Homo sapiens: one gene and its partner. The protein of the gene in region 1 purifies or fractionates together with the protein of each later gene. This does not show direct contact. Each region holds a gene or a part of one and is shown on either strand. Other genes may lie near its edges. The genes, in order: ASCC3 and CGAS.

The links.
Region 2: the proteins of ASCC3 (region 1) and CGAS purify together in Homo sapiens (affinity purification with western blotting; one study listed by BioGRID). This does not show direct contact.

What each region holds. Positions count from the first base shown.
Region 1 is NC_000006.12:100,874,635-100,878,458, forward strand, and holds part of ASCC3 (activating signal cointegrator 1 complex subunit 3), read right to left. Parts: intron 1-3,824. UniProt on the Homo sapiens protein: ATPase involved both in DNA repair and rescue of stalled ribosomes. 3'-5' DNA helicase involved in repair of alkylated DNA: promotes DNA unwinding to generate single-stranded substrate needed for ALKBH3, enabling ALKBH3 to process alkylated N3-methylcytosine (3mC) within double-stranded regions.
Region 2 is NC_000006.12:73,442,195-73,446,018, forward strand, and holds part of CGAS (cyclic GMP-AMP synthase), read right to left. Parts: intron 3,554-3,824; coding exon 3,334-3,553; intron 1-3,333. UniProt on the Homo sapiens protein: Nucleotidyltransferase that catalyzes the formation of cyclic GMP-AMP (2',3'-cGAMP) from ATP and GTP and plays a key role in innate immunity.

The DNA of each region.
Region 1 (3,824 bases):
TTTATGAGGCTCTAGAGATTAAAAAAAGAAAAACATTTTGATATGATTGCACTTGCCCTCAATGATGAGCTTACAGTATGGTTGGGAAGAAAGAAAAATAGTTGCAATAATTATGCAGCTATAACTGTAGGAAGACAGGGAAGGAGCATCTAAAGGGGTGGGAGGGCACTAGATATAAAGAAGGAAGCTGAGCTTGAGCTGAGACTTAAAGGACCTAGACAAGGTTATTACAAGAGGTAAACTATGAGGGGGAAAGCCAAAATAACAGACTTAATTACTTTTAAAACCCCTACAGAATGTGCATTTGGAAACTGATGAAATAAGACCTAAAAATGTAAGCAGAGACCAAACAACATGTCTCAAATTAGGCACTTTTCATTCTGATAATCAGAATCACTGAAAAAATACTAACATGTTACAGAAAAATTACTCAGATTTACATGTGGTGAACTGTCAAGGTGGGGTCAAACAGGACACAGGCAAACCAGTTGGGAAGTTATTTCAATAAACCAACTGAAAGACAGAGAGGATAGAATTAAGCCAGGGAAACACATAAAAGGATGGATTTAGGAGATCAGTATACTTGGAAGACAGAATCAATGTGGAATAGGATTTAAAGAAGGAGAAAGGAGCAGGACACTCAAATTTCTGGCTTAGGAAATGTTGAAGAGTGGAGGAGTCTATATGTATAGAGGGCATCAGGAAGAGGAATGATAATTCTGTTTTGGAAAACTTTAATTATGGGCTATCAAGTGGGGCATATGGTTTTGGATTTCCTATCAGAGGTCTGGGCTGGAAATCCAGAATTTCATGTTATCACTTCATCATAGTTAAAACCATGGATGAACATAATATTGTCTAAGTCAAATATACATAAGCCCATGGACCCTCTTCCTAAGAAAACAGACATACATACATATAAACAACATTTTGTACTCCATTTCAAAAGCTGCATGAATGCCCATTCATGCACTCCACCCCTAAAGGCCTCTTGGAAGTAGACAGTAGAGAGTTAAGAACAGAGTTCTAAGAAAGTGATCCACAAATCAGTTGTCATATGGAAAAGTGATATGACAACAGAAAAGAAAGTTTCAAATGACATGATACAGTCCACTGTACTCAGCCACTCTGCGGTCCTAGATGACTAGCACACCTAGTTTCCAAAAATGGTAGAAGCTAAATCTCAGTGAGTTGAAGGATAAACGCAAAGGGAGAAAATAGGGAAAAAACAAACAAACAAACAAAAAACCCTACAAATGGGTACATGCTATTCTTTCAAGAAAATGAGAAAGAAAAGGAGAAAAAGTAGGAAATACTGAAATAATGTGGTTTAAGAGTTTCTGAAAATAAAGGATAGAGTTGATCATGATTTTATCATAATCAGGGGAGAGCAAAGAGAGAAGGAAAAGTTGAGCAATCAGGAGAAAGACTGTGACTGATGGAGTAGGGTCTCTGAGAATGCAGGCGAGAATGACAACAAAAGCATAGGTCTAGAGAGACTTGGATAGATGAAGGAGTACGGAAGGAAGGATGAGTGGAAGTGCATATGGTTATAACATGGTTAAGCAGAGGGTGAATGAGGAGAGAAAAACATGGTAAAAGGGAGTTCCACCAAAATGACTCTGATTTTATTTGAGATATGCTAAGACTGTTCAAACAGGTGATGAGGTGGGATTTTTTCTAACACAGAGGCAAAAGTCTGAACTTACCACCCACAATAATAGAAGAAATATTTTTCAGGTAGCAATGAATGCTCAGCTCATACTGCAAACAATTTAAGGTGGCAATAATCTGGCATAGGAACAAAGGTTGGTGTGAACCAGGGTTAAGGTTTTGTAACACAGAGGCAGTGGGACAATGAAGCCTAAATGATAAGGGTTATTAAGTGCTTAACTTTAGGCCTAGATGAAAGGAAAAGATGTTCAACTAGGAGGTCTTAAAGATGAATCATAACATTCATAGTTAAAATTTCTGGTAAGATCACAGTGAATAAGGATTAAGAAAAACTGGCCTACATATCAATTTTTACCTTACTAATTTTTACTCCACATTTAATATGGTCCACTAAATGACAAATATATAAATGAAAAATTCTGTTAATAATAAATATTTAATGCCCCAGAACAAATATAATTTCTAAAGGATTGAAACCCTAAAAGCCTACTTCTGTTCGTCAGAAGTACTGGCTGTGGCTATCTGAACAAATCTTTAAATTGTTAATTAAACATACGTACAGGTAAAAAGAAAGTCTTAAAAATGTAACTGTCCTTTTTTACATTCCAAATAAGGAGAAAACTAAACTGATGGTAGCATATTTCCTTTTGCAAGATGATATTAACCAATAATCAGTGAGCTAGAATTCCAGTACACACTATTCTGAAGTACTACATTTAAAATTGTAATGTTTATTCTTCTTAAACCAAACCTGTGTTTCTAAACTCTAAAGATGGTCTGACTGCTTGATAGCAACTTTAGGAAAAGATAGTTACTGTATTTTTTCGTTATAAAAATATGAAAAGATCTCCAAAACAGCCAAACTATATTTCCTAATAAGTTTAAAGTCAGCACTTAGTTACTGGCAATTATGGATACTAGGGAATTATTAAAGGGACAAAAATAGTCAAAGTGATATACTGCAGATTAAGGGATAAAAACACTGACATGAAGGAGTAGGTTGTAAATGGAGTAAAATTAGAATTTAAGATTTCAGTACTTAAAATAGAATCTTGTACCCACAAACCACACCTTGAAAAATGAACAGTGAATAAATATTAAACAGTGAATAAGAATATTTATATTTTATTGTGCCTTTTTTAAAAATTGAGTTGTGATATTGTTAACATTAGCAAGATCAGAACTCAGAAAATAACCATCGTCGACACATATTTATAATCCTCCATTATGCGATTTCAAAAGGGGGTGATTTTTTCATGATAAATCCTAAAGATAATTTAATTTCTTACTTGTATTAAACCTTATTACCATCAATTGGTTCATACAGCAGAGTCTAGGCACATTTAACTTTCTTGAATCTACCAAACACTGTAGGCCAAAAAAAGGAAGGCAGAGACAGACAAAAACAATAATTACTAGAGATTCTGCTTACCATTTCAGGTATTGAATATCTGCTCCAGAGTGAATGGGGGATGGGCAACAAGAATCTTGCTCTTTTAGTCTGTTTCAATCACCACATGCATCTCAAAATGTGAGCATCTTGCTGCATTGCATGATTCTAGTTTTTAACACTTTTTCTCTTTTTTTAAAAAACATACAAGGTGGTGACCAAACACAGAGCAACTTTTTCACTGGGAGTTCATCTAAAGAAACTGTGATACATTCCAAGTCAGGATGAAAAACATGGCTGTGTAGGACATGCTGAGAGACAGCATGTTATGCCAACTTGATGTCCTTTTAAGGGATTCTCAAAGGTAATCTTAGCTATTCACAGTTTCCACCTAACAAGTTCACTTTAGATGCTAACTCATTCTTAAGCAAGAAGCAATTGCTCCTGAATAGTTCTCAATCAAGTTAGGAAACACATCTGAAGCATGCAGAACAGAGAAAGCATGACAAAAATAATAAAACACATAAACACTTTTCACACAATACAAAATATATAATGGTTAAAAACAACCAAATTTCTATGGGGCTCTTATTCTCTAACTTATCCTCTAACTAGGTTTCCCATTCAAAGGTGGGGGAAAAAAATCCTGGACAGGCTCATAACTATAAAGCAGATTAGTCTTTATATTCAGAATATTCCCCCCCAAAGTTGTGTTAATTTTACTTTTAGCACAGGGTAAGGAAGGCTTTTCCTTTAAATG
Region 2 (3,824 bases), about 27 Mb from region 1:
ACCTCTGCCCATAGTCTCTGGATCCCTTCCTTCTCAACTTCTCAAGTACCATGCTCTTCAAGTATTTCCTCTCCTACATCAGCCATCTCTCCCTCCCTGCTAGATTATTCTGAAATTCATACAAAGGGTTATAGGGTATACCTCTCCTTTCACCCCACATCTTCCTCCTCTCCATACTCACCCATCTTTCTGCTTCCTTCCAGCCCAAACTTTTTTTTTTTTTTGAGACAGGGTCCCGTTCTGTCACCCAGGCTGGAGTGCAGTAGCGTGAACATGGCTCACTGCAGCCTCAACCTCCTAGGTTCAAGCAATCCTCTTGCCTCAGCATCGTATGTAGCTGGGACCACAGGCACATGCCACCACTCCTGGCTAATTAAAAAAATGTTTTTTTCTTTTTTCTTTCTTTTTTTTTTTTTTTTTTTCTGAGACAGTCTTGCTCTGTCGCTCAGGCTGGAGTGCAGTGGCGCAATCTCAGCTCACTGCAACCTCTGTCTCCCAGGCTCAAGCAATTCTTTTGCCTCAACTTCCTGAGTAGCTATGATTATAGGTGTCTGCCACCACGCCTGGCTAATTTTTGTATTTTTAGTACAGACGGGGTTTCATCATCTTGGCCAGGCTGGTCTTGAACTCCTGACCTTGTGATCCGCCCACCTTGGCCTCCCAAAGTGCTGGGATTACAGGCATGAGCCACCATACCTGGCCTAAAATTTTTTTTTGTAGAGATGGACTCTCACTTTGTTGCCCAGGCTGGTCTTGAACTCCTGGGCTCAAGCAATCCTTCTGCCTTGGCCTCCCAAAGTGCTGAGACACCACAGTTAGCCCAGACAGAACTTTCTAGAGTGGCCTACACATGTTATCTCCACTGCAACCCTGCCTTTTCACTCTGTGTCCATCACCCCACTGACATTTCTCTTGTCAACCCCACAAGACCAAAGAACAAATCCATTGGATTTCTGGATGTCAGTAGCATTCCAAACACTGACCGCTCCTTCTACAAAACACTCATAGTCTCCTTTTGTTCATTCTCTTCTTCCCAAACTCTTTTTTTTTTTTTTTTTTTTCTGAGACAGGGTCTCACTCTGTCGCCCAGGCTGGAGTTCAGTGGCGCGGTCTCAGCTCACTGCAACCTCCGCCTTCTGGGTTCAAGAAATTCTCTGCCTCAGCCTCCCAAGTAGCTGGGATTACAGGCACCCGCCACCACGCCCGGCTAGTTTTTTGTATTTTTAGTCAAGACGGGGTTTCACCATCTTGGCCAGGCTGGTCTTGAACTCCTGACCTCGTGATCCACCCGCCTCGGCCTCCCAAAGTGTTGGGATTACAGGCGTGAGCCACGGCGCCTGGCTCTTCCCAAACTCTAATGGAATTCTCTTCTTACCACTCTACTTAACATTGCAACTTCCCCCCCACCTCCATCTCCCACATTCCTGATCCCTCTCACTTTGCTATACTTCTTCACAACAGCACTTACTACTTTCCAGTATACAAGATAATCATTTTTTCCATTTGTTATTAATTGTACGTCTGTGCTTGCAAGATAAAGCTCTTAATCTAATAGCGTAATAACATACAACACAAATTGCAGTGAGTGCTCTGAAGGGAATAAACTGGGAAAAGTGATAGCAATTAGGGTGGAATGGGGTGGTGGAGCCAAGCCCTGAGGCAGAAAAAAAGAGCTTGGAAAGATCTAGGAACAAAAAGAGACTCTTTCGGAAAAGATGAAGTTATATGAAATGAAGCTGAAGAGGCAGCCAGGGACCAGATTCTGTACTGACTTGTAGACCCTGAAAAGGACTTTAGATTTCATTTTATTTTTGAGACGGAGTCTTGCTCTGTCGCCCAGGCTGGAGTGCAGTGGCACGATCTCGGCTCACTGCAACCTCCACCTCTCGGGTTCAAGCGATTCTCCTGCCTCAGCCTCCCGAGTAGCTGGGATTACAGGCATCCACCACCACGCCTGGCTAATTTTTGTATTTTTAGTATAGATGGGGTTTCACCATCTTAGCCAGGCTGGTCTTGAACTCCTGACCTCGTGATATACCTACCTCAGCTTCCCAAAGTGCTGGGATTACAGGTGTGAGCCACTGCGCCTGGCCAGATTTTAATTTAATTTAATTTAATTTTATTTTATTTTGAGATGGAGTTTCGCTCTTGTCACTCAGGCTGGAGTGCAATGCCCCGATCTCGGCTTACTGCAACCTCTGCCTCCCAGGTTGAAGCAATTCTCCTGCCTCAGCCTCCCAAGTAGCTGGGATTACAGACATGTGCCACCACACCCGGCTAATTTTTGTATTTTTAGTAGAGATGGGGTTTCTCCATGTTGGCCAGGCTGGTCTCAAACTCCTGAGCTCAGGTGATCCACGCACCTCAGCCTCCCAAAGTGCTGGGATTACAGGTGTGAGCCACTGCGCCTGGCACCAGATTTTATTATCTGATCATTGAGAAGCCAGGTTTTCATCAGAGAGTAATGACTGGCTTTGTATTTTAAAACATTTACTCTGGCTTCTAAGGACAGATATTATAAGAAGGCAAATAGGGAGATTAGAAAGGAAAATGATGTAATAGTTCAGGTAAAAGATGGTGGCAGCTTAGGTGGGGTGGGAGTAGGGTGCTGGGATTGAAGCAGCAGACAGGTCCAAGCTGTAGCAGCACTTGCATCTGGATTAAGCGTAGGGGGTAACAGAGAGGATTAAATTAAGATGGTTCCCAGGTTTCTGGATGGTGCGTCTGGGTGGATTGATTGTGCCATTTTCTGAGATGGGAAGGACTGAGGCAAAACATAGTTTGGTATATGAATTAAGTTATGTTTATTCGCTTTGGATATGTTTGGTTATAGATTCCTGTGGTACATCAACATCAAAGTGGATATGTTAAGGACGTAGCTGGATATAGGTTTGGAGTGCAAAGGATATATTTGGGCTGCAAGTAAACATTTGGGAGTCATCATCATATAGGTGGCATTGGGAATGGATGAAATACCTAGGCAGAGAGTGTAGATTCATTTATCCATCAATTTAATAAATATTCATTGATTATTTCATATAATTTAATCATTTAATTTAATCAATATTCATTGATTATCTAATGTGTAGGTGTTCTAGTTATTTAGGATTCATTAGAGAACAAATAGATAAAGACCTCTACCCTTCTGTACTTTATAATCTTGTAATCATATTATAAGTAATTGCCAATGTACACTCCTCTACTGATGTTTCTTGACCTCTCTACTGCACTTTTTCTTACTGCAGAGAGGTCAAGAAACATGAGAATGGGAGTGTACATTGGCAATTACTAGGTATAATTAAACCTTTAAGAATCAAAAGGCAAAAGTCTTACCTTTAATGTCGTTAATTTCTTCCTTAATGATTTTCCTAAACTTTGACAGCATCTTAGAAGCTGATAATATTTCACCTTCTAAAAACTGACTCAGAGGATTTTCTTTCGGATTTCTTTTAAATTTCACAAAGTAATATGCACGAGTGTTGGAATATTCTTCTAGTTGAATTCTGGGGACTTCCAGTTTAAACATGACATCAAATTCATTAGGTGCAGAAATCTAAGAAACAGTAAAAATAGTACTGAAATATTTGCTTATGAATATTTTCCAAGTGACTGGAACTTTTTAAAAAATTTCCACTTAAAACTTTACTTTAAAAAGCAAGATTCATAATGTCTATATATACCCTCTGGGAGTGGGACTAGTGGAGCTGGCAGGAGGTGGAAGAGTATTACCAGTTTCATTTTGTAGGTTCTACACTCAATTAATTTTTTTTACCATGACCTAGTATTATTTTTATAACTAAAAATGATTTTAGGCCAAGTGCAGT